Linked DNA regions of Homo sapiens. The protein of the gene in region 1 purifies or fractionates together with the protein of each later gene. This does not show direct contact. Each region holds a gene or a part of one and is shown on either strand. Other genes may lie near its edges. The genes, in order: CCR1, PAG1, GNG10 and GAP43.

Evidence for each region.
Region 2: the proteins of CCR1 (region 1) and PAG1 purify together in Homo sapiens (affinity purification with mass spectrometry; 3 studies listed by BioGRID and IntAct, with this or other methods). This does not show direct contact.
Region 3: the proteins of CCR1 (region 1) and GNG10 purify together in Homo sapiens (affinity purification with mass spectrometry; 2 studies listed by BioGRID and IntAct, with this or other methods). This does not show direct contact.
Region 4: the proteins of CCR1 (region 1) and GAP43 purify together in Homo sapiens (affinity purification with mass spectrometry; 3 studies listed by BioGRID and IntAct, with this or other methods). This does not show direct contact.

The regions. Positions count from the first base shown.
Region 1 is NC_000003.12:46,201,177-46,205,313, forward strand, and holds the end of CCR1 (C-C chemokine receptor type 1), read right to left. Parts: intron 3,149-4,137; 5' UTR 3,138-3,148; coding exon 2,070-3,137; 3' UTR 535-2,069; downstream 1-534. UniProt on the Homo sapiens protein: Chemokine receptor that plays a crucial role in regulating immune cell migration, inflammation, and immune responses.
Region 2 is NC_000008.11:80,969,054-80,976,087, forward strand, and holds part of PAG1 (phosphoprotein associated with glycosphingolipid-enriched microdomains 1), read right to left. Parts: 3' UTR 1-7,034. UniProt on the Homo sapiens protein: Negatively regulates TCR (T-cell antigen receptor)-mediated signaling in T-cells and FCER1 (high affinity immunoglobulin epsilon receptor)-mediated signaling in mast cells.
Region 3 is NC_000009.12:111,657,341-111,664,620, reverse strand, and holds the start of GNG10 (guanine nucleotide-binding protein G(I)/G(S)/G(O) subunit gamma-10), read right to left. Parts: upstream 3,017-7,280; 5' UTR 2,987-3,016; coding exon 2,906-2,986; intron 1-2,905. UniProt on the Homo sapiens protein: Guanine nucleotide-binding proteins (G proteins) are involved as a modulator or transducer in various transmembrane signaling systems.
Region 4 is NC_000003.12:115,619,280-115,626,541, reverse strand, and holds the start of GAP43 (neuromodulin), read right to left. Parts: upstream 3,033-7,262; 5' UTR 2,853-3,032; coding exon 2,823-2,852; intron 1-2,822. UniProt on the Homo sapiens protein: This protein is associated with nerve growth. It is a major component of the motile 'growth cones' that form the tips of elongating axons. Plays a role in axonal and dendritic filopodia induction.

The DNA.
Region 1 (4,137 bases):
GGGTGTAAGCCCAGGTGGCATGACCTCCTCTATCCCAGACAAAAGTTTTCAAGACCATCATGACACCAGCTTCTTTGTACAAAGACCACATGTGAACACAATTCCCACTGAAGGGGGTGTGTGGTTTGGTAAGAGTGCAGCTCTAGTGTCCACAAAAGGAGAAAAGTCAGCCCAATGGTGTCACTGTATTGTAAGGTGGGACACCCGTCAGCTTAGGGTGTCTTCTGACTGATGATTCCTTCTTCCCTTTTACTGCCTTGGCACCCTGAGCTCTGCAGTCCCCCCAACCCCCTGCCATGCTGCCTGGGCCCTGTTGGCATCCCTGTGTCTGTCTGGCTCACTGAGCTGAGCACCCTGCAAGAACAGACATTCCTCATGCACCAGTGTCTCTCATGGCTCAAGAGCTTGCTTTGAATGGAGCCCACAGTCATCACTGCTGGGTTGAACTGATTTGTGCAAGCAATAGTGGGTAAACAGGTGGAGTAAATTAGGGTGCATCCCTGCCAACGACTTCAGTGCAGGCACCAAAAACAATGCTTTGAAATGATTTATTCACCTGGGAAAGTGATCACAACTTGCTGCTAATTAAAACCAACAATAGAACAGTGAGTACAATTGAAGTCCATCATTGTTATTATCATAAATATGCACCCAACAAAAAACAAACTAAAAGAAAATACACTCAAAAGCACACAGTGGGCACATTTTGTCTTTGGGTAGTGGAAGTGTAGGTAATGTCAGTGTTTGGGGTTTTTCTTTGAATTTTTAAGCTGTTTTAGAAATAAGTTTTGTTATTAGGAAAATTATTTTTAAAGAAATATACATCTGAGGGAAAAGAGAACAAAGGCATGATAAATAAGGGGTCCTTGGTTGGAGATGATGCATCCAGAACATTTTGGATAAATAAGCTACTTTGAGTTAAGGGCCTTCTCGGCCTCCTACATCAACACAGAATCTCACCCCACCCTCCTAGTAGACACTTTCCTCCCAACCCCCTATCAGCTACAAATACTGTCAGCTTACACAGCAGGCCTTATTATTATTATTATTTTTTTTTTTTGCTGACAAGTCCAAGATGGCAGTCGGAACTCTGACCCATAAAACCAGAAGGCTTAGATGAAGAACAAAAAGAAGGGAAACCAACCCTGCTTCCTTTTGCCTGTTATTAATCGCTGCAATAAAGCCATTAGAATCTACCAACATATCACCCAACTTGAAAAGAAGAGAGATTCTGAAAAATAGTCAGAAAAGAAGGGTAAATGGAAATGATGAGTCCCTCCCCTTTATGGCTATTTTAAGAAGCACACCATGTTATTCATATGGCCCGTGCTTAGCCCACTCCCTGAATTGTTTGATTTTAGTGGATATAAAAATTCTTCCTAAGGGCTTTCTTAGTTCCACTGCCAGCAGTAGTTCCCCATTTCTATTTCTCGTTAGGTCTCAACTCTTCCGTCATGAGTTCTATGTTCCCCAGGATTCCAAGAGCCCAAATCCTGCGGTGGGAGTGAAGGGGAGGCAGATGCTGGCTACTGATTGGCTCTGGGACTCAGAGTGGAGTCACTGTGGAAATCACTATTTCCAAGTTCTTTGGCAGTGGGAGGGTGGCGGGGGGGGGGAGGTGATGGAAGAACAGAAATTCCTCATACATCAGTGTCTCCCATGGCTTAGGAGCTCACTTTGAATGGAGCCCACAGTCACCACTACTGGGTTTAATTGGTTTGTGCAAGCAATAGTGGGAAGTGGGTGACTTTGTTGACAAATGCTAATGGTCACAAATCTGAAATCTTGCTTGAGTCCAAGCCCTTCTCTGGTACACTTAGTCCCAGTCTCTGGAATATTTGGTTTTGCTCATTCATCTTCTTTCTACCAGGGGAGAAGTTCATGGAAAAGACTGAAGCCCCAGAAGCCTCAGAAGCCCCAGGCCACCATTACATTCCCTCTCTATCCCAAGTGGCTGTGACTCCATGCTGTGCCAAGAGTCAGAACCTGGCTGGGAGAGCCAGGCTGCTGGCTCAGTGTGCCTGGCAGGTCACGCCTGCTTATTTTGGGTTGGCCTCCTATGGTCTGAGTCAGAACCCAGCAGAGAGTTCATGCTCCCCTGTGGAGGGAGATGTGGAGCTGACCCTCTCCAGCCTGTCCACGGAGAGGAAGGGGAGCCATTTAACCAGGTGCACAGCCACACGCCTGTGGAACAACTGCCGCAGGTACTTCCGGAACCTCTCACCAACGAAGGCGTAGATCACTGGGTTGACACAGCAGTGCGTGTAGGCGATCACCTCCGTCACTTGCACAGCCAGGTCCAAATGTCTGCTCTGCTCACACTCATGGGTGAACAGGAAGTCTTGGAAAACAGAAATAAGTATAGTCAAATTGTAGGGGGTCCAAAAGAGAAAAAAGATGATCATGATGACAAAAATCAAACGGACAGCTTTGGATTTCTTCTCATTTGGTCGTCTTAGCAGAATCTTTATAATCCCTGTGTAGCAGATGATCATGACCAACAAAGGCAATACCAGCCCAAAGAGGTTCAGTTTCAGAGCCTGAAACAGCTTCCACTCTCGTAGGCTTTCGTGAGGAAAGTGAAGGCTGCAGGTGTGGTGAGTGAATTCCCATTGGGTCTTGGAAAAGTATAAGCCTGGCATGGAAGCCAAGATGGCCAGGGCCCAAATGATGATGCTGGTGATGACACCAAAAGTGACGGTCCGTGCCCGCAAGGCAAACACGGCGTGGACGATGGCCAGGTACCTGTCAATCGTCAGCAGGATGATGAAAAAGATCTCGCTGTACAAGCCTGTGTAATAAAACCCAGAGAGGATCTTACACATGGCATCACCAAAAACCCAGTCATCCTTCAACTTGTAGTCGATCCAGAAGGGAAGCGTGAACAGGAAGAGCAGGTCAGAAATGGCCAGGTTCAGGAGGTAGATGCTGGTCATGTTTTTTAGCCTCTTGTATTGCACAAGGACCAGGACCACCAGGATGTTTCCAACCAGGCCAATGACAAATACCAAGGAGTACAGAGGGGGCAGCAGTTGGGCCCCAAAGGCCCTCTCGTTCACCTTCTGGCACGGAGTTGCATCCCCATAGTCAAACTCTGTGGTCGTGTCATAGTCCTCTGTGGTGTTTGGAGTTTCCATCCCGGCTTCTCCTACAGGTTAAAAAAAAAAAAAAGATTTGTCTTTACTCTGCTACTAAAGGCAGTGGGCACTGGACAGTAAAGACAAGGGAGAGGTAACATTTTTTCAGCCACTCCATAAATGTTTATTGAGTGCCTTCTGTGTACCATGCCCTGGGGACAAAATGGAGTGTTAGAGAGACCCAGATCCTCTCTGCCTTCTAGGAATCTTAGTCTAACAGGGAGTGGAAGCAATAAGTAAATGAGTGCACAAATCATTAATTCAATCATTTCAGCAAAGAGTTTTGTAAGGGATAAGTTCAATGGGTGGAAAGCCAGAGGGAGACCTTACCATACTATTCATAACCAACACTTCCTAAGCACCCCCATGGCCTAGGCACTGGACTTAGGGTTAAAGAGCCCTGGAGGGGTCCCATTGTTGTTCTTATTTAAGAGGTGATGAAACAGAGGTTCAGAGTGGTTAGGAAACATGTTCAAGGACACACCTCTTGTGAGAACAGACCTGGAGCTCCAACCCAGCTGTGCATCATTCTCATGCCCGGCCCTGACACCACTACGCTTTCCTGCTGCTGTCCCCGAGCAGTAGCTTTGCACTGTGGAGCCCACAGGAGGACTCTGAGAAGGAAAATGGTCCTGGCTCAGAGAAAGATACAAACAGATATTCATGGCTTTTGGTCTAAGAAGATTCTCAGCCGAGAGTGACCTAGTACCCTTGGGGCACTTGGAAATGTGTGGGCATTTGTTGTTGTTGTCACCAAAACTGGGGGATGCTACCGTCATTTGGTAGGCAGGGCCAAGGATGTCCTACAGTGCAGAGATCATTCTACCCCAAACACCAGTGGTGTTGCCATAGTGAAATCCTAGTAGGTCAACCCCATTATTTTGGAGATGAGGACACTGAGGGCACCAGAGTGGGCTGAGCCTGACCCACATTGCACAGTCCTTAGGTGGCACAGGTAGATCTAAGGTCACTTTGCAGACCTCCTGAAGGAGAGGAAAGT
Region 2 (7,034 bases), on another chromosome or scaffold:
TTTGCTGACTTGAACGTAAGGTTCAGCTTTCCTGATGCTTTTCACATTGCTTCTCCTCAAGACATGAGCATTGCTGCAGGCATGGCCATCTTCCAGGACATGGGCGGGTAGTGGCACATAGGAATTAAATCCTAGCATGGCTCCAGGAAAAACAAGACAAGTACTATACTCAAAAAGTAAAGTTAAAAAAAGCAAGCATGCTTAAGGGATGGGTCATGAACACCACATCAGGTTCATTTATGAGTCTTATATTAAAAATACATAGAAGCTTGTCAAAGGAATGCTCAAAATCCTCAACCCATAGACTCAGGCTTTTGGTCCCAGCCTCTTCTTCCAGAGAAGGGCACTGCTGTCTTTCAGGGAAGCCTTCACTACCTAAATGAGGAGCTAAAGATTAAAAAAAAAATTCTCTTTAAGCTTAAGAAAAGGAAATAGTTTGCTTTAAACTCATGGTTTCCAACTTGTTGAGTTAAAAACAAACCAAACCAAACCAGGACATGACAACAAGATAGTTCTGAACTGTAGGCTCTAGGGAGCAACTGGTCCTTCTTTTAGCTTTAACTGTGTCCTATTTAGAGTGCCTAACAGGTATACTAGGGGAACTTTAAAAAACTAAATGTATAAAGAGAATGAGCAGAGATATCTGTTCTGCTAATTTTGAAAAAAAGTTACACTCTAAAATGTCCATTCAAAGAATTAACTGTGATGACTTACAGCAAAGTTTTACAAAACCAAATGAAACACCCTGGCTCCTGAAGTATGTAGAAAATGGGAACTTCAGCAGCTGCACCTCCAATTCACCTATCCTAGGACCTAGAAGGTGCTTGGTTTCTCACTCCAAAGTCAGGCAGTTTGCTATAAATGGCCAAGTTATTCTCCTTATCTGGTAGCTCTACCTTTGCATGCTGAAGCACTCACAGTTTTCTTAGGTCCTGGGGGATCAGAGCAAACTGGCTGTAACTTGACATCATCCTTAGGCACTGTTTCCTGGGGGAGAGGGTGCAATGGCTTCATGGTGAAAACATTTTACACTCAATTTACTTTAAAAAGGTTTTTTTTTTGTTTTTGTTTTTGAGATGGAGTCTTGCTCTGTCGCCCAGGCTGGAGTGCAGTGTTGCGATCTCAGCTCATTGCAACCTCTGCCTCCCAGGTTCAAGTGATTCTCCTGCCTCAGCCTCCTGAGTAGTTGGGACTACAGGCACATGCCACCATGCCTGGCTAATTTTTTTTGCATTTTTAGTAGAGACAGGGTTTCATCATGTTGGCCAGGCAGGTCTCAAACTCCTGACCTCAAGTGATCCACCTGTCTCAGCCTCCCAAAGTGCTGGGATTACAGGCATGAGCCACTGCACCCGGCCTAAAAATGATTACTTCTTATAAAAAGGATTTCTTCCCCTTCACAACACTCAGCTTCCTTTTTCTTTCCTGGTAACTATGGGTCTGGTGTTGTCATAAGGATCTACCTTCCACATGCTGGACAGTGGGGGTTGCTGCTTGAGGAGACTCAGGCCAGATACAGATCACTGTGGGGAACACTAAGCTTACTTGGTTAGAGCACGGCACTAACATTTCTGCCTCTGTGAGTTTGATTCCACCACATAATTTTTTAAAAGTGCTTTTCCATGGCCCCTTAGTGTCAACCATTCTTACGAAAGATGTGAGCAACAGTGTACATGTTTTGGCAAAAGTCGTGACAAATAGCACCAGCATCTGCCGCCCTAGGTGGACCTGTGGCCTCATCTTGGCAGCCTGTGAGTTGGGCAGAGCTGTGACGAGGCATGGTTCTGTGCCGGCTGGCAGGGTCTGTGATATGGCAGCACTGTGATCCGTACTGGAAAGACATAATGGCATGTCCTGTGAACAGCAGATACAGAAGGCTGAGTGGGGAAGCGACCCAGGGGTATTGCCACACAAAGCGATAGGCCAGCTAAGTACCAGGAGACAAACTGAGGTGGGAGGAAATAGTGACTTCATGGCCTCATTCTTTAGACTTACTCCTTAAAAGGACTAGATCCGGGGAGGGAAAAGTAATCACAAAATGTTCAAGCTAATAAGAGATATTTTTGGTCTTAAAACTAAGGTTTAAAAATTCCCAGTACTGAAAACAACTTTCTCACTCTTTTGTGAATTGGACAATTTGACCATTATGAAGATCTTTTGAAACAATCAATGAAAATGCTACTAAGTGTCATGAATTATTTTTTAATATTTTTGAGTAAGGGGAGTACTTTAATACTGATTGGGCCCATGTAATAGACAATATGTCACTTTTGGTGTAACTATTTTTATGAGGAAAAAACATTAACAATGAAATGCCAATTCCTATTTATAACAGACCTTTTTTGTTTAGATATATTTCAAGTTTCCCCAGAAAATATGAGGCATGTTAATACAACACAATTATTTAAAAGGTAACAACATTAAAACATTTTACTGCTGCCAATGTAACATACAGACATCTGAGAAATGACAATTATCAACCTTTGTAATACATGATTACGCAAGGTGATATGAGACAACCCAAGGGTAGCACATTTTAAAAAATACCCACAGTATATAACTGGCAAGCCAAAAAAACTTCCTGTATTAACAGAAATGATTACTGAATTGAACGCTTTTTAAAAAATGTCTTTTAAGCAAAAATTGTATTTCTCTTTTCATGTTACATTAAGAATTTGGAATATTATTTTTCAGTTAAGTCAAAGAAGAACTTGAAAAAAATAATGACATACTTCACAAATAGTAGAGACTAGATGTAAACACAGACCTAAAAATGAGCAGTAGGATAAAAAAAACCATGAATGTTTGTTCTCTTCTGGACCATGATTTTAAATTTTAATTTGGTAATTCCAGATAAAGATTCTAATTTATCATGGTTTCTGGACTGATCTCTTTAAGTTAAACACTTTCAGTCTAAGTGTGTTCAACTGGCCTAAAGCCACTGTCAGGAAAAATGTATTTAGGAAAATATACAACACAGGGCAAGAAAATACTACTGTAGAATAAGGAATTTAGATTTCACTGCAAATAAAGCCATATTTGATATTAAAGACACATGTTCCTATTTTCACATCAGTCATTTATTAACACCAAACATTATACTTTAACTTTTCCCCATTACACAGTACAATAAGCCTGTCAAGATTTCCAGGAAGTAATCATCAGTACCTACTGTGCTTCCAGCAGCCAAAGCTAAGCTGGCTGGGTACCAGAAATCAACACCTTCAGGAGAATGGCATCACAAGATTGCATGGACTCATATTAACTATTACAAGGGGCACTGGAAAAAAAGGTCATTTGCTCATTTACAAAATCCTAATTGAACTAAAGCTCTGTAATTATAGCCATGGTATCAGACCAGCTTTTTCGCACATCCTATCACATCGCTGCCTGCTGATGTTTTACACTGCCTATAAAGTCTCATAATTTTAAAAGGGAATGAAACAGAATGCCACAGGTGACCGACCTCTGCTCCTGCTACTTGGGAGTCACGTTGTCTTGGCTTCGTCCTGGCTCAAGGTTACTAGTCTCTTGCTGCTTTGGGCCAAATCTCTTATCTCTTTACATTTCCTCCTCTCAGGCTGAGTCAAAAGTAAGTCACATGTATAACAAAACTGTCTTAAAATACCACTGTTTTTCAGCCAAGAGAATTACGGATGCAATTTAAAGTCTAAATGTATTAATTGGAAAAATTAAATTAGAGCAACTCAAGGTTTTCCTGTAATTACCAAATGAAACTGATTGAAAAACTGTTCCTTCTAATTCTGCTTTTCCAACAAAAGTTCATCACACTAGCAGGATAAACATTCAAAATACATAATAGAACATATCCTAATTAAGCACCAGAGTTGTGTCAGAGCCAAGTATATACACACACACACGTATACGTGTGTGTGTGTGTGTGTGTGTGTGTAGTTTATTACTGGTTAAGTAAATGCTCTAATTAGCAAAAATCATGAGAAATATATACAGTGATATAATGCGGTTAAATTTTAGTTCTCTGTGTTAACTACTTACTGTTAATTTAGTACTCAATTAGAATTAACTCTGGGATTTTGAGGGCAGATAAATCAGTAATTAGCCTTTATCCCAGAAAGAATAGTGGTAGCTTCAAAAGCTTCAACAGACCTAATGATGTAATTTATTCAGGACAGAAAAAAAAATATGTAGCCAACATTCTTGCAAGAATTACTTTCTTATGGAATTTAAGATTTCCTCAAATATTTTCTTTTCTATATAGCGTTTTGTTCTTGTGTAGTTATCTGCCTAGGATACAGACAGGATATTGAGACTATTTCAGAAAGTAGACACACTAAAAACATTTGACAAATTAAAAAAATTTTGCATAAAACAGGTTACCCTTTCCTGCTGACTATACTTAAGAAATACCAAAGTAGCATACAAAATGCTTCTAAACTTTCAAAATATCTGAATAAAAACAAAGATCCTACTTTTAACTGAGATAGATTTATAATTCTTACTTACAAGATAAAAAAATTTCCTAAAATTTATTTTTAAATTTCACATAACCTGCTATAATTCGCTGTAAAAAATGGATGTCAAAATAGAATTTTAAATATACAAATTGTTTTTGATAACTACCTTTCATACATTTTATTTAAACTGTAGCATTAGCTCAAGATGAAACTTTTTAAAAGAAACCATAGGCTTTTGTCCAACTCAAAGATTCAAGCCCAGATTCTGAACAAAGTAAATGTGATGAAATTTATGAAAAACTATACTGTACAGTCAAAACAGTGATGGTGCCTCAGTAAATAACTTCAGTAAAATATCCAGTGCTCCAAATAGCTGAGCCATCTTTCTAAGGTTCACTCTGCTTCTCTCCCCCAGCCCTCATGGCCTGTGCTACCATCTATTCTTTTAGCGTTTATGCTGGAGGGCCTTATAGTTCCTTTAAAAGTACACTGAAAATACTTTATATCACAGCTTATTCTAACCACTGGTTCTCAAATTAAAAGGTATATTTCAGTGCATATTTCATAGCCACATTGCAGAACTAATATTTGAAAACTCTTGGGGGAAATTTTGGTAACAAAATTGCAAAATGACATGATTATTTATGAGCTTTCTATAAAAAGTTTTTTTTTTTTTTTTTTTTTTACTTTAGAGATCATACCTACTTTCCTGCCTTTTTGATAAGTAAGGCATGAAATGAAACAAAAGTTTTGAGCTGTAAGGTGCCTATAAAGGATGTCACTACAGCATTCACAATGCTAGGTGTGTAAGATGACATGGCTGTTACCATGTACTAAAGAACCCCATCATGTGAGAGATCGCTCAAAGTCATTAACACAAAGCAGTGAAAATCATCCAGCAAAGCAGTGCTTATGAGAGACTAGAATTCAGAGAAATGCAAGGTACGAACTTCTCTCTAATCCAAGGGTATTCTGCTGTGATCTTCTAATCAGTGATGATTGTGCTTATGCACACGACATCTTCATGGGAGAGACCAGGCTGATTGCAAAATAATGACAACCAACCAGTTTACCTCAACATAGCTCACTCTGCAATGTCAGACATGCAGTGTAGAGCAGTCACAAAGTCAAGCCATGAATACAGGGATGGAAAAACATTCCAGTGAGCTGGTCTCTACAATTTTTAAGACACTTCATCCTCCCAATTATATTCTTTGTCATAAAGAGGAAAAACAGCAAGATTATTAAATCCAAAAAGTCACAGATGTCACAAGGGGATGAAATAATTTCCTCATTTTTTTTCTTTATCAGTGTAGGAAAAGCTGTCTTTCCATAGCCCACACTCATAATAGCACTTCAACTAGGCTCCTTTGAAAATGAAAAGTGAACAAGTTTCCTAATGCTGGCCTTATAAGATCTAAAGAGATGATTAAATTCAAACCAGGCTGAGCTCTTACTCTGAGCTATTTCAGCCACTGATGTTTGTAAAATATAGGAAGAAGATTCCAATAGGCAATTTGCATTGGCAAGCACTGGACTACAGAATTCATCACTGTTTTCTGAAAAAATATAATTAAACCTTAATGGAATTATGACACTTTTATGAGGTTTATAATTCACAGCCACCTCTCATCATATTTTGTTCTTCTTTCCATTTTTACCATTTCAAATATTGCAATATTGCCCACCATAAACCACTGAAAATGATTATTTATGTATATTCCATTTATTTCTCTAGGGGGTCTAGGTAATTTGAATCAGGAGCTCCAAGTACCATTTAAAAAGGTGAGTCTTTAAAAACCATCAGTGTTTTAAACACTTGATTAGAAAAAAGATAACAGCTCCTTGTAGTGATCTAGCTTATGTGCTTTATGGTATCTTTTCAAAAGGAGAGTATAAATCATTGTACATAAAATCAAAATAGCTAATATACATTTTTTTCTGGCACTTTTGAGAAATTAGGCATTGAACATAAAACATCTTATAAACTTACATAACAAAAATAAATGTTTACATTTTAATCTTAGATTACCTTAGGGTAGCAGTTAACTTATGAGATGCCACACTGTTGGTGTGGGCAGCGGAGACCATGGGAAATACACATTCATGTCCACAGCCCTTCAGCGATGGATGCATGGCTGCCGTCCAAATATGTGGTCTGTGTCCCAACATAAAGATTAAGGCTCTCTGTTTTGAAGGAATGAGTTCTGGGCTTAAACAAGTCTAGAAGTACCACAATACTCATGGAAAATACTGAAAAGATTCGGACGAGTTTTCAAACACTGGGGGAAACACGTTTTTGACTAGAAAAATAAAATAAAGCATCTAAAACTGACTTCAAGTACTTTGGGGAGAGGCTGCTGATATCGAATGCCAAAATAAGAAGGAACAAAGACAGAAGAGACTCCAGGGACGTCCCTCCCCATCCCTTCACCCGCAGGGTCCAGATCCCCAGGTGCTGATGCGCAACTCTTTGGGGAGGACTGGCGAGCTGGGCAGAAAGCAGCAGCCATGGTTTGTCACCATCCTAAAACACCTATATTGAGGGCAAAGGCCAAGCTTTGTGTGAAAATTTCCTTGGGATGAACCACAGGAATC
Region 3 (7,280 bases), on another chromosome or scaffold:
AGCTGTCCCCTGCCATTGGTGGTGGGATAACCTCCACCCAGGTTACCTGACTTTCCTTGGTTTGAGCCCATGTTTACCCAGCAACTTCTGTGAGGCTCCTCTAAAGGAGGAGTTCTTGGAAGGATACCAAGCATTCCTATAGCTGGGAAGGGATGTCCTCTATTATATGCTAGAAAATTGGTGTCCTGGTTTATTTTTCAGATAGCAAGTCTGTCAAAGAGAAGACACCTCTGGCTATGCTAAGCACATCCAACAATGAATGAGGATGTGAGGTAGACCAGACCCTGGAATGGTTGTGACTCTCTAAGGTATTGTCTGAGGGAAGCCCTGCCAAGTACCCCAGATCATACTTCCATGAGCGCACCTCTTAAATAGGCTTATTATCCTATTTGTAAATAAGCTTACTGCGAGCTCAGGCAATTCACCTGAATTATATGGCTCTCAGTTTCATCATCATTTTTAAAAGGTAGATAAGCACATCTTTCCGGCCAGGTGCCATGGCTCATGCCTGTAATCCCAGCACTTTGGGAGCTTGAGGCGGGAGGATCACCTGAGGTCAGGAGATCGATACCAGCCTGGCCAATATGGTGAAACTCCATCTCTACTAAAAATACAAAAAAAAAAAAAAAGCCAATTAGTGGACGTGGTGGCAGGTGCCCGTAATCCCAGCTACTCGGGAGGCTGAGGCAGGAGAATCGCTTGAACCTGGGAGGCAGAGGTTGCAGTGAGCTGAGATCATGCCATTGCACTCCAACCTGGGCAACAAGAATGAAACTCCATCTCAAAAAAAAAAAAAAAAGAATATCTTTCCTCTTTCTTAGCTACTTGGCGGGTAGACAGGCATCTGACTGGCTCACAGTTTTCCTTTCTACCTCATGTCCCCACATTGTCTTTGTGAATTTCCAACAACCCTCATTTCAGTTCCCTGACTTCTTCCCCTCAAACAGCCTTCTCCTCAATGCCAACAGATACAGTTACAACACCTGTAACTGCTCCACTTCTGAAATTTTACACTCCAGTATCCTACTCTCTGATCACAATCTCTCCTTCCCATCCAGGGTGCTGCCTCCTTTATTCTTCCTTTATTCTGCTCTGACCTCACCGAGATCACCAGGCATCACCTCCTCCCCTTCTGTCTCACCTATCACCAGGAGGCTGGCTGCATTCCTTCTCTATCCATCTAGGCTCAGCCTCTTTCTGGCCAGACCTTCACACGCCTTGCCCTCCGGCCCCACCTCCACCTTTCTGGCATACCTCCCCTGCTAACTTACTCCTCTTTCAACTACCGTTCACCTTCAGCACTCACATTCCAGGATGGTAAAGATTGCTGCAGGAAAAAAAAAAAATCACAAATATGACCAGCAGTCTCCCTTGTCACAGCAGCTGGGTCTTCAGTCACAGCGCATCTGCGTGCCTGCTCAGGGGCCACTCCCTTAGTCCCCTTTCCTCTGCCTTAGAAGAAAACCTGGCCTCCTATTTCACAAAGAAAAGTGTCACCATACAAGTTTAGCCCATATCTAGAAACTTATCTTTACACACACCCTTACCTTCTTTCTTCCTGTCTCAGAAGCTGTGCCACCAATCCCCCACCCCCCCGTAGCCCTGTCTCCTCTACCAGCAATTGGCTTCCATTTGTTTCTTCCCTGGAACCTAAAAATATAATTTGTTACTTCCTCTCAACCCTAAAACATGGCTTTTCATTTCCTAAGTTAAAAAAACACGTTATTTCCTCTTTAAAACTAGGTTTCTTTAAAAAGAAAAAACGTCTGCCTACCCTATGACAGTCCAGATTCTGCTTTTACTAACACATAAGCCACCAGACCTCTGCATTCCACAGCCCTCTCTCCCTTTACCCTGTTTATTATCTTCACTCCACTTAGTACATGAAGCGATGCTATGTATCCGTTAAGTTGCTGTTTACCTTCCCCTCCAGAACCACCCTATTCCCTGTAGCAGTGCCAGGCACACAGCAAAGGAGAAACTGAGGCACAGGGACTATCCTGGTTGTGTTCCTTCTTACAGATCTTCTGCAAATAATGCTGCACTCGTAGCTAAACACAGCTCTACAACAGACGCCTTTTAGCCAACTGACTAAACGCTGGACATGTTGACTGAGCCCCCAGTTTTTGGAAATCCCTACTTCCTTGCTCGGAAACCTTGCTGTCTCTTATTTCCTCTTCTCTAGGCCTTGCTCGGAAACCTTGCTGTCTCTTATTTCCTCTTCTCTCGGCCACCGGCCATCGGTGTGGCTGGTCCCCGGGTCCCAGGCTCTGAGCTCTGCTCTTCATAGAAGAGGCTTTTTCGCCCCAATGCACTTGAATGACCTCTTTCAGCCCTGGGCGCTGAGCTTCAGGCCATGAGGACAAATACCTCCCGGATGACTCCCCGGAGTCCCCAGGTCCGCAGCCGAACTCATCATTTCCCCAAACCTGTTCCCCCTCCTCTCTACCTCGGCGGGTGGCAGCGCCGTCCACCCTGTCACGACGACAGAAACCCGAGCATCCTGGCTCTCCTCCCTCTCGCTCTCATCCTACCAATCCATCACCAATTCGCCGCCCTGCGGTGGCCTCCCCAGCCCTGGGTCCACCCTCCCGGCCCGCGCGTCGCCGGCATCCCTTGCGCCCTCCGAGGAACTGACCACGGCCGCCTTCTGGAGTGGGCGCACCCCCAGGGACCGGGACCGACCACGACCGCGGGGCCCCCCAGGCGCGGCTTCCTCCCGTCAGGCCCGGGCCCCCGGCTTGCCCCGCGCCCTCCCTCACCGCGGACCCCACCGCCCCCGCGCCCCGCCGAGGCCTCGCCGCCGCCACCGAGTCCCCCGCTGGCGCCCGGTCCGGGCCGCCGGCCTCCTCTTCTCACGCCCCGCGGGCGGAAGGACCGGAGCGTGGGTACCCGGGGCCCGCACCTTGATCCTCTCCACGCCAGCCTCCAACTTGAGCTGCTCTACCAAGCGCTGCAGGGCGCTCGCGCTAGCCCCGGAGGACATGGCGGCGGCGCTGGGCTCCTAGGGGCTGCTGGGCCCGGCCGGGCGGGGAGGAGCCGCCAGCCCCGAGCGCGGGTGCCGCCCCGGGGCGGGGAAGCAGCTGCGCCCGCCCCGCCGCCCCAGCCCACCCGGCGCGGAGCCGCTTGCCAGAGACAGCGGGGACCCCAGCGAGCTGGCAGTGCTCTCCGCTCCTCAGCGCCTGAAACCTGGGTGGCACCTGCAGCTGGGCCTGGAACCGAGGCGGGGACCCGCAGAGCGCGGCGTCCTCCAGCGAAGCTGGCGCCCCTAGGATGAGCAGGAATCGCGAGGGCGTGGGACGCGAGGATGGAGTGGGCGGCAGCAAACACGCACCCCTGAGAAATGAGAACTGGAGCCAAGGTGTGACATGAGTTGGAGAGATAAGGGGCCTTGCCAGACAGTATCACCGGGGAACCAAGGAGAGTTCATAGGATTTTCATGAGGCAGCAACAGGTTTCTAAATGACCCTGTTACTGTTTCACGGAGATCCTACCAGTTGATTTGGTGGAGTATGGTAAATTGGATAAAATCCCAGACCCTGACATCTTTGTGAAACATACAGAATAAAATTAAATTCAGCGTTTCTCACTCTCATCTCACCATTTAACTGTCATCATTGTTTCTATTCTGCTGCTTTTTTTTTTTTTTTTTTTTTTTTTGAGACAGGGTCTTGCTCTGTCACCCGGGGTGGAGTGCAGTGGCGTGATCACAGCTCCTTGTAGCCTCCACCTCGTGGGCTCAGGTGATCCTCCTGCCTCAGCCTCCTGAGTAGCTGGGACTACAGACACACACCACCACGCCCGGCTAATTTTTGTATTTTTAGTAGAGACGGGGTTTCACGATGTTGGCCAGGCTGGTGTTGAACTCCTGGGCTCAGGTGATCCTCCCACCTCAGCCTCCCAAAGTGCTGGCATTATAGGCCTACTGCATTTTTTAATAAGTGTTTTACAAAACTGGGATCGTTACTATATTTAAAATTTTTGTGTTGCTTTTTTCCATGTATCATTAATACGTCATTATTCTTGTACACCATTGTATTTGTCAGAACTCACTTAAACTGAATATTGCAAAAGGTAATATATTGGCTTGTGTAACTGAAAAGTCCAGGGACTTTAAACTAGTGAATTCAATTACCCAAATAATAATTTTGGGGCTCTCATCCTCCTTGTTTTGATTCTGCTTTTCCTGAGATTAGCCTCATTTTCCTTGGTGGTAGATGGACTTCTCTAGTGGTATGAAGGAAGGCACCACACTTTCACTGTCCCCATCTAGCAAACCCAGGAAAAATAGTACCTCTTTTCTTTCTAATCGTTCCAGCAAAAATCCCCATAATGAACCTCACTGGCTGGTATTAAGTCATGGGCCCACCCCTGGCCCAATTACTCTTTGAAGGCAAGGATGTGTGGCATTGACGTGCTCAGATTAGCTGTGCCTGGGCCAAAGGGAGACTTGCACATTTGAAAGCCCTCTCTAGTGGCCAATTTCCTCACCACAAAGAAATTAATATATATCTTAGTAAAGAGATGAAAGTACATGTTGGGAACATTCAACAATCAATTCTGAGACTGATGAATAGGACAAAATAGAATGATTTCATATTTAAAAGATATGGCAAAGAACTCAGTGCAAAGATATACATACTGGATTAGGAAAGGCTCATCATAGATCGTGAGAGCTGGACTTTGGAGATACGTGTCTTGCAGATGGCTCAGAAGGAAGAACAGTCCAGTATGGAGGACAGCTGGAGGCGATGCACACATGTAGAGTGAATAAATTTAAAAATAGAGGAAGCTCTAGTGACTAATAGCAGATACAAAGTTGCTAGGGCCAGAAGTCATAGAAAACCTCACATACACACAAAAGTTTATGGTAAACAGTGGGATAGCCACAGGGTAAGGCATTTTGGGAATATTAATCTGAGATGAATGTGCAAAATGAACTGAAGTTGAGAAGATAAATGGCTGATGGTGGGGGAGTAGCTGGAATGAGGCCCTGGGTAGGACTGTTAGAGTAGGAATGAGGGGGAACAAATTTAGAAGACAAAATCAGTGGTACTTCATGGTGGTTATGAAATGCAAAGAAAAGAGGACAAAGGGTTCTGTAGCAGAGAGTGGGCCAGAACTAATGCCAAAACAGAAATTAGGAAACAAGACTTGGCTTGAGATGAGTAAAAAATAATGTGGGGTTTGGTTTAGGAGTAACGAAGTGACTTCCATGGCATTGCTACATGCCTTTAGGCTGCTGAAAATGTTTAGTAGCCAAGATGTTAATGTGAAGATGTCTCCACAGCAATGGCAGCTGAAATAATGAGATTACCTCAAAATCATTAGAAATGAAGGCTTTGGAGTTGCCCTCAATGAAGGGACACACGTCAGCCATGTCATACTGTATCAGCCACGAGGTAGCAGGAAAAGTCTAGGGGTGTGCTGTGTCTGCCTCCTTCATGCCCTACACACCCACTGCCCCGCCCACCTCAGTGTTACTTTGCACCGTTCAAGAGGAATGGTCTGTGATCCATGGATAAGCAGGCCGGGCGCCACTTGTACTTGAGGAAGGCTGACCATCTGTGTGATGCTCCACACTTTCCCCACAAGACTTCTCATCCATTATTTTTGCATCATGGAACTTCAAAGTTGAAGGGAACCATCAGATAGTGCGGCGCATCTACAATTTCAGAGATGAGGAAACAGATCCACTAAGGAAAGTGAAGTGACTTGCCCAGTATCACAGAAAGTGGGAGCAGGGAAAAGAATTTCATTTTAGCTTTCAAGAGAATTCAGGCCAGACGCGGTGGCTCACACCTGTAATCCCAGCACTTTGGGAGGCCAAGGCGGGCAGATCACTTGAGGTCAGGAGTTCAAGACAAGTCTGGCCAACATGGTGAAACCCCGTCTCTTCGGGGTTTCTACCACGCCTGGCTAATTTAAAATACAAAAATTAGCCGGGCGTGCTGGCATATGCCTGTAGTCCCAGATTCCTGGGAGGCTGAGGCACAAGTATCGCTTGAACCCGGGAGGTGGGGGTTGCAGTGAGACTGCGCCACTGCACTCCTGCCTGGGCGACAGAACAAGACTCCGTCTCAAACAAAGAACTCAAGGTTTACCTAGAGGACCAGAGGCCTTTCCCACATGTGCTGTGATTTCCAGAGCTCTGGAAGGTGAGGGATGGAGACAGAGTACCCTTCTTTCCTTCTCACTACAGCTAAAATGCATGGGTAACCAGTAGAATATCTTTCAAATTTTGTCACACATTTTTTTCCCTGGTTAAGCACAAACTTATCTCATTTCCAAGAAACTTTCTAGAAATGTCATTACCCTTGTAATGACAAATGTTTCATTTGTTTCCCTGTTAGGAGCTACAGTTCTTCACTCCTCTGACTTGTATTTTATCACCTGTCTACTAACAGTGGATTATTCTTCCAGGAAAGGGGTTTGTGAGTCAATCTTCTCCATAAAAATAATGACATAATGGGAAGATATTTCTGCCAATGTTATATCAAAATGACAATAATATATACCATCTATAGTTTCCAAAATGATTAAGAGTAGGAAAACACATTAATAACTATATCTAATGTGACACAGTATCATGTACTATAAAAATTATTTTACTTCTTTTTGCCTATTACATTATTTTTAGAACCCAGAAATAATGAATCAGGAGCTGAAAGAATCACCAGCAGGTTTGTAGATTCAGAATGGCTTTTCTGGAGAGATTTTCACAGGTACTTTTGAGACTTTGGGAGACGGCAGAACTTAGGGCTATTAGATGTCTTTTTGAGCAACCATTCTAAGCATATCTGTTTGCTACATTGAAAATGTCCCTTCACTAAATGTAGGCCTTAGACTAGCAACTTGCTGATCATTCTGTCATCTCTGAAAGTTTTTCTTTCTTTCCTGAGTCGTCATCTCGGCTGCTCCACCTTGCACACTGGTGGCAACAGGGCAGGCAGCTGCTTTTTAAAATACACAATTCCAACCCTAAGGAGCATCACTCCTTCACTCTAGCACCGTGCCTTGCACAAGGGATTAAAATATGTATTAAAAGAATAAACAATGGGTTTGTAATCATCACAAAACACACTCCTGTTACCATGCTTTTTTTTTTTTTAACAAATGAGACTCTTTGTTATTCCCTCTGAAGGCAAAATAACTCACATTTCCTGATCACTTAATATATGCCAGGCATTTTACCCTTGTTATCGTCTAAGAACTGTCTGAAATAGTATCTTTACATGAAAGAAAACAAGGCTCACAGGTTAAAGTAACCTGCCCAGTCA
Region 4 (7,262 bases), about 69 Mb from region 1:
GGATTATTTTATTTTATTCCTCCTTTGCCCACTCCTTTACCATATTCTCATCTCTACCCCACTCTCATTCTCTTCTTCCTGCTATAATAATCTATAGTGATAACTAATGGCTAATAGAGATCATTTATGCTTTCTTCTCACCCACTGGCAATGTATTCCAACTTAGAAATCCAAGGTTGCTTCTTTATGCCGCTCAAGTGGAAGAGGAAGGAAGTGCAAGCCCTTCAGCCCCCCTCCCACGTTTCTGCTGGATTTTATGGGTGTGGCAGAGCTTAGACCTTTGCAGGTTTTTGCCCTTGTTTTATTCCCTGTTAAGTACTACGATGATGAATAGATGCCAGCAGAAGGATGGGCACCACTGGATTTTGTCATAAATGATACAGAATTTCATCCACAAGCAGGCAACCTGCGTGAGACTTAAGTACTCATGCTACATAAATGCCAGTCAGTGTAGTGTGAGCCCACGCCCTGAATACACCATTTCCTTTAGTCTGATTGAATGGTATCCTAAATACTGGCTAATGTGAATGATACACAACAGTGGTTTATAAGAGACATGACCATTTCACACAGAAGTACACATTTATAAAATGCATGAGCAAAGTAGGACAATTTCTATACCTTTAATTTTCTCTTGAATATAAATGATGCTAAAACACAGAGAGGCATGTGGAAACCACTTACACATGCAACTGTAGCATATGAAGTATGTGGATGCTGTATACATTTACATGCGAATTTCTACAACTCTAAACACAATTTCAGCTTCATCACTTTGCACATCAGAGTGAATGCTTGGGGCTGTTGGTGAGATAGAGCCCCAGGGAAGGCAGCTGTCTTCATTTTGGGAAGGGAATTCCTTTAGCCCTAATTCCTTTTCTAAAAATCATACATGATTTCCTTTATTAAAGGAGATGTATGTATACTTGCATATGTACACATAGGGTGGGAACAAATTATGAACCTGAATATTTTTCTTTCCAAAATTAAAGCTTTTTAAGTGGATGGCTTTGGCTTACTTAGTGCTCCACCTTCCTAAATGTTATTTCCCCAGCTCACCAGTGAAATAACCTCAGGACTTTTCTTTGACAGTGTTCTTAACCCAGACACCTGTATTTATTACATTTATATATTAAAATGAAGGAGGACACAGAGAGAAAATGCCCTGGTTTGATAAAATGAGCCAATGGAAGCATCAATCTCTGTAACCATAGGGCAGTTTCAGGAGATGCTGCAAATACCGCCCCCAACTCAATCCCCCACTATCCGACTTTTTCCCCCAAATAGCCCCACACAATCCAGGATGTCTGCTTATTTATTTATTTATTTATTTATGCCAAATCTCTACTCCCACTGCTCTGACATTCTGCTTCAGTCTCCCATCCTCTTCCTGCTCCTTCTCCTTCATCCTCACTCCCCACCCTTCCTTCCAGGGCGCTGGCTAAATGTGCTAAGCTGGCAGGCTGTTTCTTCTCCACTCTCTTCCACCCCCTTCGGATTCAGGGAGTGTATTACAAATTGCCCAATTTCCAATACCTGCACTGGAAATTATACCCAAATTCCATCTCTTGCACCCCACCCCTAAGGCAATCAGTCTGCGAAGGGCTTCTTTGACCAAGATTGCCCCCACCACACCCCCACCCCCACCACAGTCAAGCATACGCACACACTCACCCGTATCCCACACCCATTTTTCTCTTTAACCTTTGCCAAAATCACTCAAATGCATTCCAACAAATGTTTGAAAGCTTCTTTTGGAGACTGCCATGGCATGGTCGGTTGCTGCGGAATACCACACTCGTCATTCCTTCCCACTCTCACCCCAATCAAGTTTCTAAAATGTCTTTCAAGAAATAAGCGAGCAATTGGAAATGGCTGTAAAACCTGGGCAGTGGGGGAGGGAAGGAGGGGCTCTGATTCTTGCTAATCTTGGATGTGTCCCTCTTCCTGATGAAAATGAGTCACCATACTTATTATCCAGGATGTTAGCCTGTCTCTGGTCACTGACAATCCCAGGAAAGAAGCAAGGGAAGGGGATAAGAGAAAAGACCTGGTTTCCAACAGGTAATACCCGGCTGTCTTTCCCATCCCATCGGAGCTCCTAGGGGCGTGGTCCACCCTCTCCTCCGACCAGCTGGTGCACAATCGGCTGCTGATCTTAGGAAGGGGATTTTCTCCTTCTGCATGGCCAATTTCTCCCCCAGCCCCAGTTGTCTTAGCTTCTCTTAAAAAAAAAAAAAATCTATCAAATCACAGTTTCATTCATTCATTGAAAAATAAATACTAAATAAATAAGACCTGCACGTTTTTCCATAAATACCTGCGCCCCTTCGAAGCTCATGCATGCACGAAATAAGGCATCTTCCGCAGCACATGTGAGAAAATTGTATGACAGAGAGGCAATACTCAGTTCTGAATATTATTTCCTCAACCCTGCTTTTTTGCAAATAATATAAAGAAATGCCTCCCCATCTTGTAGGTAGAGCCCACATCATCTCCCCCACACCCCTTTCTACGTCCACACCCTCAAGACCAGAGACCTCAAATGCTGAGCATTCACTAATAAGAAAAAAAAAAATTATTTCTAGCCAAACAGGCATGTTTTTTCTACCCTCACCCTAATTAGTAGCAGCATTCCAAAACCAGAGCATGAAAGACAGAAAAGAATAAAAGCTGGGATGCAACCATCAGTTACCATATGCTAAGGAAGCGCGAGCACCACGGCCAGAGCAGAAGCAGTAAAAAAATTGTTTGCCTTTACGGGGAAATACTGTACTCGGGTTATTTCACAACAGCAAGAAGTAAAAAATCTTTAGCTCTACCTGTTTGGTTCTTCTCATACAGCACAGCATGGTTGTCTCGTCCCTTGCCTTCTTCCTGCCTTCTCTCCTTTCCTTCTCTCTCTTTCTTATTCCCCCCCTCTCCACCTCTTTTCTGCTCGCTTGCTCACTCGCTCTCTCGCGCTAGCGCGCTCTCTCTCCCTCCCTCCCTCTCTCTCCCTCACACACACCAGGGCAGTTAGCAGCAACTGTAAGGTCCACAGCTATTGCTCATCGCACATGCTCGCTCCCTCTCTCTAGCGCTCTCTCTCTCTCTCCCTCTCTCTCTGGTGCTCTCTCTCCGCTGTCCTCTCTTCCCTCTCTTCTCCTTTTTTCTCCTTCCCCCCAATATCTATCTATCTGTCTTTTTCTTCCCTCTCTCTCCGTCTCTTTCTCGGAATTGTTCTCTAGCCTTCAGTGACTAATCACTTCCCCCAGCCCCTACCCCCATTCTAGACAGTCGCCCCCTCCCAGTCCCCTGCCAGCCTCATGAATATTTAAACACCTCCAATCTGGACCCAATTACCCACCGACTTTTCCACTGCATTGAGAGGGTGATGGGGTGGGGGCAGAGAAGGATATTCCAGTCAATCCAGGAGATATGATAGAGCATGTTTTAGGGAAGAGGGGCTTGAGGAATCCTTGTATTTCTTTAAGAACTCTTTTCCTCTTTTCCTAGTATTATAAAAGCAAAGAACAGCTATTTCTAAAGAGGAATTGTAGTCAGTCCTATACAATATAAGTCATATCTGCCATTACATTTTATGCATAGTTAATAATTGTGGAGGTTAATTTCCCTCAAAAAATGAAATAACATGTAAATATCATACACTGTTTATATATTCTTCTCAGTATACATATAACCTGAAATAAATACAAAGCTTAGATATGCACAAGCATATTTTATATATGTTCCAATATCCTGGAAAAAAATCCACATAAATATATTGCATTTTAAACATTCTAAGCACTTGAGCTCAGAAATAATAAACAATGTTTAAGAATTGGCATCCATATCTAAAATCACATGGTAGTTTTTTGTTTTTTCCTTAATGCACATATACCTGTTTGTAAATTGTGGTTTCTTCTAATTTTACTGAAAAAGCTGAGCACATTCAAACAGGTCTGTGTAATATTGACGGTGATCAAAATGATATTTTACAATTTGGGCATGAGAGATTAAAGTGAATTCATCTGAGATGAGAAGAAACGATAAGTCATGAAGCCTACTTCTTGAATTCCTTCTATGGCCTTTCATAATTTTGGGGGAGGAACATGTGACTCTTAAAGTGTGTATAGCACAATTTTTAGTTATTTATTGTTGAATGAGTTTGAGTGTGTTACTGAAGCTCTTTGCACCTAATTTTCTCATCTTTAAAATGGAGATAATAATGCCAATCTTGACAACATGTTTTGAGGACTAAATGATATAACGCATGCAAAGCACAACAGTCTCTCTGAGTGTATAATAGCTTTACTCCAGAGACTGTACTTTTCTGAAATTCGGGTGACATTTGCAAGTGAATATCTCAAAGAAGTTTTCAAACTATTTCTTGTTGTTCATTAGTGATGACAAGTACCCCTAATTAAACAGCTCATATTCTTCATAGTCCCTCCTAGACCTCCTAGACATAAACCTAGCTAATAAGTGGCAACTAGGCAGCTTATTGTTAGGCATATTTCAGGATCACTGAGCTCAATAAGTGCTTAGTACATTTTAACATAATTTAAGGTATATCTATTTCAAAATGGACTATCTCAGACAGGTACCTGGGAACGATGGTGATGATGATACCCAGGAGGTGATATTTAAAATTAGCCTTAATTATTCCTCAGGAGTCTTCCTGAGAGTGGCCTGCTTCAGATCCGCTGATTTGGTCTTTCATTCTTCTCAGTTTGCTTCCTAGTTTTCATATTTATGATTAAAAAACAGAATTAGTTTCTGAGTTTAATAATTTTTTAATGTTACAAGGAGCCCAGCCGCTTTCAGAACAGCCTTCCGTGATTTTAAGTGATAAAAGAGGACAAAGAGTGGGTGAGAAATGGCTCCTACCAGAAACATTCCGGTTGCAGATTAGGAACACCCTACCTAGCCTGCTAGTGGCTAAAGAGCAATGAAGGGAGGAGGCAGAGAATGTGGGGATTGGGGATGATGGAGAAGAAATTGCACCTTTTGGTGTTTAAACAGGATAACTCCATTGATAAGACCATTTCATTAACTATGTGGCCAAACTTAAAGAGTGGGACTAATTCCTTTCCCTTTCGATGTACTCACCTCAGCCATCCCATTTATATTTTTCCCCCTTTATATATGGGAAGGAACCTTGGAAACAAAGTGGCATAATGAAGTTAAACAAGCTAGGGCTTAAAACTGGGCACAAGCATTGATGAACTTTGTGACTAAATATGTGAAACCACCCAGCTCAGAATCAGCTTCCTCATCAGTTTACATGCATTATTTTATCTAATACTCAAAATGAGGTAGGCACAAGTAGTAATCCCATTTTGATGGGGATGCTAAAGCTAAGGGAAGTTAAGTGCCTTGACTAAGTCACAGAACTAAGAAGTAGTAAAGCTAGGACTCTATGTCTCTTAACAACTAGGCTACATCAATCACCACTTAATAGGCCTCTACTCTTCATTACTTCTAGTCCTTAAGAGATTAAACTACATAGTGGAAGTTTTAATGTTGAAATGAAATCAGCATTCAATGTTGAAATGAAATCAGCAAGATCCATCTTTTAGGCCCAACTCTTACTTCAAGAGCCATGGAGAATAAGCTGATATCTTCATGCAATAGAGAGCCCTCTATGTATTTCTGATGAGATGTCTGCTCCTTCAACTACCCTCAGGTGTCTCAGTGTGTAAGGTCCTCACCATTTTGGATGCCTTCCTCTGGACATACTACATTCTGTCAATGAACCTTTAAAAATTACCTCCCAATTTGGAAGCCTAAGATTCCAAATTTAATTTGAATAACATGGAATCAATTCTAATGCATCTTTTTCTCTAAGCAATGGTGGTTATGGATGGCAAAAGAATAAGGGAGAGACAAGCACAAACTGATATGAGCTTTGCAAAAAATATATAAAAAATAAAATAACCGATGTCCCGATTTTTGCCAAGCAAATACACAATAGACCCACTAATCCTTGTACTTTATAACTAATCCTAGACAATGCATAGGCTTAAGCCCCATGGCTAACCCTTTTACAATTTTAGATTAGCAAATTAACTCATAATACTATCAATTAACTTCTTGACTATAGGTTAGACAATAATAACATTCTAGAAAAAGATGAAGAGTGGTGGAGGCCAGATCCCAGTTCCACGCTCAGATCTCTTTGAACTTTATACTAAAGTGATACTGCTTGTATAATAAAACCAAAAGTCACTGACCTTTACTAAGGGCTCTGTAAAATAGTCTACCATTTTAAGATTATGGCTGGTACTTGAGAGAAGACAATGTCATCAATTCAGGTAGAAAAGATGTTAGTCTTATTTCTCCCTTTTTTAAATTTTATTTTATATTTTATTTTATTCTATTTTATTCTGAGACAGGTTTTCTCTTTGTCGCCCAGGCTGGAGTGCAGTGGTGCAAACATAGCTCACTACAACCTTGAAATCCTAGGCTCAAGCAATCTTCTACCTCAGCCTTCTGAGTACACAAGCCTTCTGTGAACTACAAGTACACGTCACCACTCCTGGCTAATTTTTTTTTTATTTTTTATTTTTGTAGAGACAAGGTCTCATCATGTTGCCTAGACTGGTCTCAAACTGCTGGCTTCAAGCAATCCTCTCACCTCGGCCTCTTCTCTTATTTTTTCAGTGCTTAATCTAAGCCTTTTACTTGCTGCATTAGTTTTCTAGCATTGCCGTAACAAAATAGCACAGACTGGGTGGCCTAAAAAACAGAAATGTAATTTCTGACAGTTCTGAAGTCTGGAAGTCCAAGATCAGGCTGGTGGCTGAGTTGGTTTCCTCTGAGAGTCCTAAAGGAAGGTCCTTTCCAAACCTCTTTCCTGCACTTGCAGCTGGCCGCCCTCTGCTGCCTCTGCACATGGCATGGTTGCCCCCCTGTGTGCATGTGCACCTCTGCTCTCTGTCCCTGTGTATCGTAAGCTCCCCTTCATAAGGACACCAATCAAATTGGATTAGGGCCCACACCTATGGCCTCATTTCACCTTAATTTTCTCTGTAAAGGGTCACATTAAAGATCTCCAAATACAGTCACATCTTAAGGTACTGGGAGTTAGGTTCCAACATATGAATTTGCAAATAAGGGGGACATAATTCAACCCAAACACCTGCTTTCTCTGTCCATACTTGCTGTTTTCATTCACTTAATCTATAGTTTCTATGTTGCAAAAATCATCCTTCCCTCAAGGAAAGTCACACGTACATGAAAAGCAAAGCAAACACTGTGTGCACAAAATATGATTC